Linked DNA regions of Homo sapiens. The protein of the gene in region 3 interacts with the protein of the main gene of each other region in a biochemical or structural test. Each region holds a gene or a part of one and is shown on either strand. Other genes may lie near its edges.

The links.
Region 1: the proteins of CDC27 (region 3) and MDC1 form a complex in vitro, tested with the Homo sapiens proteins (2 studies listed by BioGRID).
Region 2: the proteins of CDC27 (region 3) and PPP5C form a complex in vitro, tested with the Homo sapiens proteins (one study listed by BioGRID).

The regions. Positions count from the first base shown.
Region 1 is NC_000006.12:30,707,282-30,710,781, forward strand, and holds part of MDC1 (mediator of DNA damage checkpoint protein 1), read right to left. Parts: intron 1,077-3,500; coding exon 285-1,076; intron 174-284; coding exon 103-173; intron 1-102. UniProt on the Homo sapiens protein: Histone reader protein required for checkpoint-mediated cell cycle arrest in response to DNA damage within both the S phase and G2/M phases of the cell cycle.
Region 2 is NC_000019.10:46,388,281-46,391,475, reverse strand, and holds the end of PPP5C (serine/threonine-protein phosphatase 5), read right to left. Parts: intron 3,069-3,195; coding exon 3,028-3,068; intron 2,924-3,027; coding exon 2,745-2,923; intron 1,426-2,744; coding exon 1,344-1,425; intron 1,193-1,343; coding exon 1,130-1,192; 3' UTR 501-1,129; downstream 1-500. UniProt on the Homo sapiens protein: Serine/threonine-protein phosphatase that dephosphorylates a myriad of proteins involved in different signaling pathways including the kinases CSNK1E, ASK1/MAP3K5, PRKDC and RAF1, the nuclear receptors NR3C1, PPARG, ESR1 and ESR2, SMAD proteins and TAU/MAPT.
Region 3 is NC_000017.11:47,154,796-47,158,295, reverse strand, and holds part of CDC27 (cell division cycle protein 27 homolog), read left to right. Parts: coding exon 1-90; intron 91-911; coding exon 912-1,066; intron 1,067-1,171; coding exon 1,172-1,383; intron 1,384-3,431; exon of another isoform or gene 3,432-3,500. UniProt on the Homo sapiens protein: Component of the anaphase promoting complex/cyclosome (APC/C), a cell cycle-regulated E3 ubiquitin ligase that controls progression through mitosis and the G1 phase of the cell cycle.

The DNA.
Region 1 (3,500 bases), on a different chromosome or scaffold from region 3:
AATAATGAGAAAGGAATAGATTAAAGTGAGGCTAGGTGAAAGAGCATTGGAGAAGATATAGAGATGACTTGTGGAATAGGAGGTAGAAAAAGTAGCTCTCACCCTGGAAACCTTCTCAGCAGCTCTGATCCTGGAAGCCTTCTCAGCAGGTGGCATCTTGCAATTCAGGAGGCCTAGACAGAAAGTAAACACAAAGGTGGCTGAGTTCCAAGCAGCTGGTTGCCCAGGGGTTGATTATCACGAGGCCTGTGTATCACCTTGGGTTCCCCTCTGCCTTCACTTACCTTTCTGATGCCTCCTGGGGCTCACTGGGGATCCCCTTCCACCTGACTGGCTCCCAGAAGGTACGGGGGCTGAGGTAGGTCCCGGAAGGTCCCCCGCCCCCACCCCAGGCTCTGGTGTTGGGCTGGAGGCCTGCCCTTTCTGGTCCTGGCTCCCTCCCTCTGGCTCCCCTCTCTGTGTATCTCTCTCCAGGATCACTTTGGGCACCTTCTCTTCTAACTCGGCTGGATCGCACTCTCTGTTTGCTACTGGTCTCTCTACTTCTCTCTCAAATGCTTTGCTTGGAAGGGTCTGCTTCTGTACTTGTTTCTCTTGTATTTCCTCAGATGTCTCAATTTCTACCTTCAAACTCTCCCTATCTCTTTCAGGACTTGCACTTTCCCCATTTTTGTCAGATTCTTGTCTCTGGGTGTCTCTAGCTAACAACTGTTTTTGTTCTCTGTCCTGTTTCCCCTTGGTTAATTCTTCCTCTCCTGTCACATCTGTCTGTCTTTCTGGTAGCAGTTTCTCAGTTTCTCTCTCCAATGGCCCTCTCTCAGGGCCCACCCTCTCTGCTGTTTCTTTTGGTATACCCATGACTTTATCCACAGTCTGCCTCCCTCTGCCTTGAATCCCCATTGGCTCTGTGTGAACTGGGCTCTCTGGATGTTGGTCTCCTGGTATTGCCCTAGGTGGAGACAGGCAAGGTCCATAGGCCTCAAGGTGCGTGTCAAAAGGCTGGGTCTCAGAGTCCTCAGACTCTCTCAGACAGAATGGCTGTGTAGCCAGGACCTCCCATGGTTCATCTAGGGTACCTGGAAGGGGAGGAAGGAAGAGAGAGAGAGGGAGAGGGAGAGAAAAGAGGGAGAGGAAGAGGGAAAGGGAAGTACAGGTTGACATAATAAATATGATGAGAAAGGATTTAGATAAACTCATGAATAATAAATCTGAACAGGTTATTAAAGGTAAGCTGGGAATAAGGGTGGTAGTTATAACATTTAACGTTTGTCTCAAAAAGGTCATAGCCTTAGGCGGGCATGGTGGCTCAGACATGTAATCCCAGGACTTTGGGAGGCCAAGACATGAGGATTGCTTGAGGCCAGGAGTTTGAGACTAGCCTGGACAACATGGCAAAACCCCATCTCTACAAAAAATACAAAAAAATTAGGTGTGGGGACGGGGACCTGTAGTCCTGTAGTCTCAGCTACCCGGGAGGCTGAGGTAGGAGAACTACTTGAACCCCAAAGGTCAAGACTGTAGTGAGCTGTGATCATACCACTGCACTTCAGCCTGAGTGACAGAGACTCTGTCTCAAAAAAAAAAAAAAAAAAAAACCCAAGAGAAAAAGAAAAACATCATAGCCTAATATGAGTTCCCTGAATAGTCTCTCATCATACCACTGCATTCCAGCCTGAGTGACAGAGACCCTGTCTCAAAAAAAGAAAGAAAGAAAGAAAGAAAGAAAAACATCATAGCCTAATAAGAGAGTTCCCTGAATAGTCTCTCTCTCTCAAGACAGTTTCACTCTGTCACCCAGGCTGGAGTGCAGTGGCATGATGTTGGCTCACTGCAACTCCCAACTGCTGGGCTCAGGAGATCCTCCCACCTCAGCCTCCCAAGTAGCTGGGACTACGGCATGTGCCAAAGTGCCCGGCTAATTTTTTGTATTTGTTGTAGAGATGGGGTTTGGTCTTGAACTCTTAGACTCAAGTGATCCACCCACATTGGTCTCCCAAAGTGCTGGGATTACAGGTGTGAGCCACCATGCTTGGCTGGAATTTCCTTCTTTTTAAAGGCTGAATAGTATTCCACTGTGTATATATACCACATTTTCTTTTTTCTTCATTGACACATAATAATTGTACATATTTATGGGGTACCTGTGCTATTTTGACTCATGCATACAATGTACAATGATAAAACCAAGATAATTGGGATATCCACTATCTCAAACATTTATCATTTCTTTGTCTTGGAAACATATCAAATCTCTTCTAGCTATTTTGAAATACACAATAAATTATTAACTATAGTAACACTACTGTGGAACTGAACACTAGAACTTATTCATTCAATCTGACTGGATTTTTGTATTCATTAACCAACCTCTTTATGCATTCTGTCCCTCTACCCTTCCTAGCCTTTGGTAACCACCATTCTACTCTCTACTTCCATGAGATCCATGTTTTTAGCTCCCACATGAGTGAGCATACAATATTTGCCTTTCTGTGCTGACTTATTTCACTTAACATAATGTCCTCAGGGTTCATCCATGTTGCTGCAGATGACAGGATTTCATTCTCTTCTGTTGCTGAATACTGTTCCACTGTGTATATATACACATTTTCTTTTTTTTTTAGATTGAGTCTTGCTCTGTCACCCAGTTTGGAGTGCAGTGGCATGACCTCAGCTCACTGCAACCTCTGCGTCTTAGGCAGCAATCCTCCCATCTTAGCCTCCCGAGTAGCTAAGACTACAGGTGCATGCCACCATGCCCAGCTAAATTTTGTATTTTGAGCCACTGCACCCAGCCTATATACACATTTTCTTTTTTTTTATTATTAGAGATGAAGTCTCACTCTGTTGCCCATGTTGGAGTGCAGTGGTGTGACCTTGGCTCACTGCAACCTCTGCCTCCGGGGTTCAAATGAGTCTCCTGCTTCAGTCTCCCGAGTAGCTGGGACTACAGGCACCTGCCACCATGCCCAGCTAATTTTTGTATTTTTAGTAGAGACAGGGTTTCACCATGTTGGCCAGGCTGGTCTCAAACTCCTGACCTCATGTGATCCACCCACTTCGGCTTCCCAAAGTGCTGGGATTACAGGCATGAGGCACTGTGCCCGGCCTACATTTTCTTTTCTTTCGTTTTTTTGAGACAGAGTTTCACTCTTGTTGCCCAGGCCAGAGTGCGATGGCACAATCTCAGCTCACTGCAACCTCTGCCTCCTGGGTTCAAGGGATTCTCCTGACTCAGTCTCCTGAGTAGCTGGGATTACAGGCATGCACCACCACACCCGGCTAATTTTGTATTTTTAGTAGAGACGGGGTTTCTCCATGTTGGTCAGGCTGGTCTCAAGCTCCCGATCTCAGGTGATCTGCCTGCCTTGGCCTCCCAAAGTGTTGGGATTAGAGGTGTGAGCCACTGTGCCCGACCCCGGCCTACATTTTCTTTATCCATTCATCTGTTGATGGACATTTAGTTTGATTTCATATCTGCCTATTGTGAACAGTGCTGCAAT
Region 2 (3,195 bases), on a different chromosome or scaffold from region 3:
CGCAATCAGGACCGCGGACGCCTCATGTCTGCCTGGGAGGTCTCCAAAGGGCCAAACACTCCCGGACTCGGCCCTGCAGGAGTCATTTGCTGTAGACCATCCCCCAGTGCCACATACCACTGGAGAAAGCTGAGTCCAGAGGAGCTCAAACTTGAAAACACAATCTCTCTGGAGGGTCAAGGCCTGGCAGGGCAGCCTGAATGGAATCCAACGTTACCTGTGACTAAGAGCCAACTGGGAGTGAGACAAGGGTCCTCTGGTCTCCCTGGATGACGGGAGATGCGCGCCTCATCGTGTGATGTCAAGAACCACTGCTGGGCCTACCCTGAGCAGGGAGCAGGGAGCGGCACTGTCATGCTTGTTGCTGGAGCCAGCAAAGGATGAGGCTATGCCTCAGCTTCCGCTCCGCTCCACTCAGTGCTGGCCTCATCGCCCCACCCAGGGGGCAGAACTCTCCCCAGGAGCCCACGGTGCTGGGCAGAGGCAGAGGCCACTTGGGCGGTCAGCCCAGAGCTGGGTGGGCCCGGCCAGCGGGACTTTGCGGCCTCCCCACCCTCCGGATCTCCTGAGCAGGCGTAACCCAACCCGGGCAGCTCCTTCGGCTCCACCATCCAGAGACAAGCTGACTTCCGATAATGACTTTATTTTAACATATTTAATTACAGACATAAAATAGCTGGGGAGGGGGGTGAGCCCCAGCCTAGCCCCACCATGGGGCTATAGGAGGGGAGGCGCAGGCGGGGCCCCCCTGCTGACCCTCTCTCTGGGGGTCTTCCTATGGCGGGGCCCTATTGCTTGAGTGGGGGAGGAGCCATGCAAATGAGGGGGGCAGGGCAGCCACTCGGCCCCACCCCACCCCGAGGACGGCCTCCCCACAGAATGCCCAGGCTGTGCCCCCAGCCCCAGCTGCTCCACCTCCTTCCTCTCTGTCCAGGGAGCAGACCCTCTGGCCAGCCCCTGACTCTGCCCCTACCCCCTCTGCAAACCTAAAGGGGAATAAATACAAACTTTACAAAGTAAAAGGGGGTCCAACATTGCCCTGGGGCGGGGCCTGCTCTGCCCCTAGCCCAGGGCCTGGGTCCGGTGGGATTGGAGGGGCCCTGGGATGCAGGCCGCCCCGCCCGTCACCTCACATCATTCCTAGCTGCAGCAGCGTGTTGGCATAGGCCATGGGCTTGACGTTGGGATGAGGCTGTGGGACCAGGGCAGGTGGGATGGACAGAAGTCAGAACAGAGCCCCTGAGCACCCACCGGCAGAACCTACCCCTGCCCCTTACCAGGGTCTCAGCCTCCTTGTCCCCAGGCCGGGATGGAAGGGGCAGGGGCCCTGAGGGGTGACTCACCACTGCTGTGAACTGGTGGAACTGAGGCCGTAGGTCAGAGCCCTGGAGGTGGATGTAGGAGGCTTTGTTCCCCATCTGGTCGCTGCAGGGACAGGAGCAGAGTGGACAGTGTGGTCAGGGCTGGGTGGGGCTGGTGGGTTAAGAGAAGGAATGGCTGGGCAAGAAGGGACAGAGGGAGAGGGAGGGACAGAGCCACAACAGACACAGATGGACAGAGAGACAGAGATGGGAAAGACGAATCCAGGGGAAAGAATGGGAGGGGCAGGAGGATGGGGATGGGGAAAAGAGGGTGGGAGTGCAGGAAGCAGGAGCAGGAAGGGGCAGGGCATAGCTCATGGAGGTGGATGCTCGCCAGACCCCACTAGGAATCTGACCACGCTTCTAGCTTTGCCCACCCAGAGATGCAGGGAACAGAGGAACATGTCACACGGCACCACGGGGATGCAGTCAGCCTAGTCCAGGACACAGGTGACTCGTACAGCAGGCAGCAACCTATTCTTCAACAAATAAATGATGCGGGTGGGGAGAGACAGGGAACTCACAGGCAAAGAGACTGAAAATGTGGTCCTTGTTTAGGTCCTGTCTGGAAGAAGTCAGCTGGAAAAGACACTTAGGAGAGACCAGGAGAAAGAGAACTTGGCAGGATTCGGGTGGGGGCAAGGGATCAACACTGTGTGTGTGTGTGTGTGTGTGTGTGTGTGTGTGTGTGTGTGTGTGTGTGTGTGTGTGTGTGTGTGTGTGTGTGTGTGTGTGTGTGTGTGTGTGTGTGTTTTGAGATGGAGTCTTACTCTTGCCCGTGTGCGTGTGTTTTGAGATGGAGTCTTACTCTTCCCCAGGCTGGAGTGCAGTGGTGCAATCTCAGCTCACTGCAACCTCTACCTCCCGGGTTCGAACAATTCTCCTGACTCAGCCTCCTGAGTAGCTGGGATTACGGGTGTGTGCCACCACGCCCTGCTAATTTTTGTATTTTTAGTAGAGATGGGGTTTCACCATGTTGGCCAGGCTGGTCTCAAACTCCTGACCTCAGGTGATCCGCCCACCTCGGCCTCCCAAAGTGCTGGGATTATAGGCGTGAGCCACCATGCCCAGCCAGCACTCAAAAGTGTAAACACGATATTGTGGTTAAGAAAAAGATCCCTTTCCTTCTGAAAAGTGCTGGGCAATCAGTGGGAGAAAGGTGAAGTGCCAGGGGCTTGCTGTAACACAGGGCAGCTGGTCAGCACTCACAGGCTGGCCCCACTGGTGCTGCATGGGTGGGTGACACATACGGGGGTGTTCGTCATGTTCTTTTATCTGCTCTTGCCTGTCTTTGAAATGTTCCATCATAAAAAGGCAAAACAAAAACCAAGACAAAAACCCGTGGCTTGGTAGAGGCCCTGGGCTGGAAAGGCAAAGACATACCAGTAGTTGGGGGCAGAGAAGACGGTGACACAGCGGCCTCCGTGAGCCACCTCGTAGCCCTCGGCCTTGACTTCGTGGCTGCGGATGATATAGTCCAGGTTGTTCTCTTCCAAGAAGGCCTTGGTGACGTCAGGCCCAAACTGACAGCTCACGCCCCGCTTGCTGATCGAGCGCCCGTTCTGAGGGTGGGCAGAAGGGAGAGACAGGGGTTCAGGGTGACTGTCTGCCTCCACCTGCTGCCACAGCCCACACCCGCCGGCCCTGCACCCCACCCTAGACTCACCTGTGGCTGTGGATCTGACCAGAGCAGGTCACACATGGGCCCTGGTGGGGAGCGAGGGAAACATTAGGGACTCGTCCACCTCCCCGGGGGTGGTCACTCACAGGCCACCTCCTGGCCCGGCCAGGTGCTGACCCCACAGCCCAGCCTGGGTGGGTGTTGGGCAGGGGA
Region 3 (3,500 bases):
ATCGGCTTGCCAAAGGATCAGAATGTTACCAAAAGAGCCTTAGTTTAAATCCTTTCCTCTGGTCTCCCTTTGAATCATTATGTGAAATAGGTAGGTGGGTGGGGTTGAGAGGTGGGTGGGTTCCCATCTCCTCTTCTTTTTTTCCTGCTACTTAATTTTTGGAGAGCAATACAGATCATCTACCCCCAAGAAAAATATTTTTCAAAGTTAAAATTGAGAATAAAAAATAAGTTAGAATCTTCGGTATGTTTCAAGAATCATATAACTGAAAATTACACAAAGATTAAATCCAGTAGATTCTTCTGTTGAACCAATCTATTTTCAAGTATCTGGTGTCCTCTAGAATGGGTTATATTGTGTGTTTAACACTAGCAAAATTGCTTTCTGAATAAGAAAATTAATAAAATTTCTAATGCAATTAATAAATGCCTGAAACTTACAAGACCTGAACAGTACAGGGAGAGAATTTCTCAGTATATTTGGCCTAGGATACATAAAGGACCATTTTTCAGCATTGTTGCATCTATGTATATATAGAAGGGCTTCAACCTTTACTGTAAAATATGATGGGTTTTAACTCTTCAACCTCATCTCCTACTTTGAGAAAAATGAGATCTAGTTATTTTCAGCTTTAAAACAAACACAGAAATCTGCATTTTTCTGCGATTTGTTATGTTTAAAATTAGTGTTCTTGTAGTTTATTTTCATTTACAGCTTTATCTTACTGGTAAACTTTTATGATATATTGATAGATGGGTTTTTTGGGGGTAAATTTGATTAGCAGAAGTGGACAGGAGATTTTTAAAGTTTGGATAAGGCCTATTTCCTGTTTCCACTGATTTATGCATACTTGAAAAACATGTATTCCTCACTTCCTCAGAGACAAACTTTTTTTTTTTTTGTCTTCACAGGTGAAAAGCCAGATCCTGACCAAACATTTAAATTCACATCTTTACAGAACTTTAGCAACTGTCTGCCCAACTCTTGCACAACACAAGTACCTAATCATAGTTTATCTCACAGACAGCCTGAGACAGTTCTTACGGAAACACCCCAGGACACAATTGTAAGTGTCTTATATTCTAGTGTTCAAAATATTATGAAAACTACAAAGAATGATCTGAACTAAATAATATATTGTGAATGACTTGGTAGAAATTTTCTGTTTCAGGAATTAAACAGATTGAATTTAGAATCTTCCAATTCAAAGTACTCCTTGAATACAGATTCCTCAGTGTCTTATATTGATTCAGCTGTAATTTCACCTGATACTGTCCCACTGGGAACAGGAACTTCCATATTATCTAAACAGGTTCAAAATAAACCAAAAACTGGTCGAAGTTTATTAGGAGGACCAGCAGCTCTTAGTCCATTAACCCCAAGGTAAGTCAAACAAGATACTTTCAAATGTGCTATAATACCAAATGATCTTATGATAACTCATATTGTTAGTAATGCAGATTATTACAACAGCAACTTCTAAATCACTGTGGAAACAGGGGCATTCTGTTTTCAGAAAATGAAGTAAAAACTGGCAAATAGTGATGTTGCCAGGTGCGGTGGCTCATGCCTGTAATCCCAGCACCTTGGGAGGCCAAGGCAGGCAGATCACCTGAGGTCAGGAGTTCAAGAACAGCCTGGCCAACATGGTGAAACCCTGTCTCTACTAAAAATACAAAAATTAGCTGGGCATGGTGGCGGGCGCCTGTAATCCCAGCTACTCAGGAGGCTGAGACAGGAGAATTGCTTGAACCCGGGAGGCGGAGGTTGTAGTGAGCCGAGATGGAGCCACTACACTCCATCCTGGGCGACAGACCAAGACTCCAACTCAAAAAAAATTGATATTGAATATTGGACTGGCCAGGCGCAGTGGCTCACGCCTGTAATCCCAGCACTTTGGGAGACCAAGGTGGGCAGATCACGAGGTCAGGAGATCGAGACCATCCTGGCCAACATGGCGAAACCCCGTCTCTACTAAAAATACAAAAAACTAGCCGGGTGTGGTGGCACGCGCCTGTAGATCCAGCTACTCGGGAGGCTGAGGCAAGAGAATCACTTGAACCCGGGAGACAGAGGTTGCAGTGAGCCGAGATGGTGTCACTGCACTCCAGCCTGGGAGACAGGGCAAGACTCCATCTCAAAAAAAAAATTGGAGGAAAATTTAAAACTCTGAAATATTCCTTAATTAGGTAGTAAACACATTAAAAAATACTGTCTTTATGGCTGTGCATTAATGGATAGCGGTGAGCCTCATGAAATGTTATAATCAGGGCACCACTGGTTACTGTTAAAGTGCCTTTTTCCAAAACATGGAGGAAATTTGACACCTACCTTTTTTTGTTTGAGACAGGATCTCACTCTGTCACCCAGGTTAGAGTGCAGTGGCACAATCATAGCTCACTGCAGCCTCAAATTCTTGGGCTCAAGCGATCCTCCCACCTCAGACTCCTGAGTAGCTGGGACTGCAGGCACATGCCACCACACCTGGCTAATTTTTTAAGTGTTTTTGTAGAGATGGGGTCTTGCTGTGTTGCCCAAGCTGATCTGGAACTCCTGGCCTCTAGTGATCCTCCTGCTGTGGCCTCCCAAAGTGCTAGGATTACCGTGAGCCACTGAACCTAGCTGTCACACCTATTAATATAAAATATTTTATCAAAATTATTAGAAGTATATGTATGTATAAATACAGGAACTCAGCCCAGAGGATACATATCCAAAAGTATCAAAATGAAAAATTATGTGCTAGAATGGGTTGGGCATGGGGGCTCATGCCTGTAATCCCAGCACTTTGGGAGGCTGAGGTGGGCAGATCACTTGAGACCAGGAGCTCAAGACCAGTCTGGCCAACATGGTGAAACCCTATCTCTACTAAAATTACAAAAATTAGCCCGGCATGGTGACACATACGTGTAATCCCAGGTACTTTGGGGGTTGAGGCACAAGAATCATTTGAACCCAGCAGGTGGAGGTTGCAGTGAGCTGAGATCATGCCACTGCACTCCAGCCTGGGCAACAGAGCGAGACTCTGTCTCAAAAAAATATATACATATATGCTAGAAGAAATTCTATGAATCAGGTCCTGAGGCCGGGGAACTACTAAAATAGCATGACCATGAGATTACAACTCTGGAGAGTTATAGTTATCTAATGGTCTCTAGAGACATTTTCTCTGTAGTTGTGTCTAAATCCCATAAATTCCAAGAATTTGAAGTAATCTCATCATTTGGATCTTAGATTTATAAAGCTACTCTTCTTTATTTCTAATAAATCTCCTGAGATCAGTAATTGTTGCTCAGTTTAGTTCCTTGTTTGATAGCTTTTTAAAATTTTAGTTATGGTGGGTGGAATAGTCTACATTCACAGCTTATTTTTAATCTGCCCCTCAGATCCTCACTGTCCCTAAGACTGATTTGCCATTCTCTTCCTTTTAGACCTTCTAATTTAAGTATACTGCTGCTTTATATATGCCTTGATGACTTTTTGACACCTTGATTTCAACC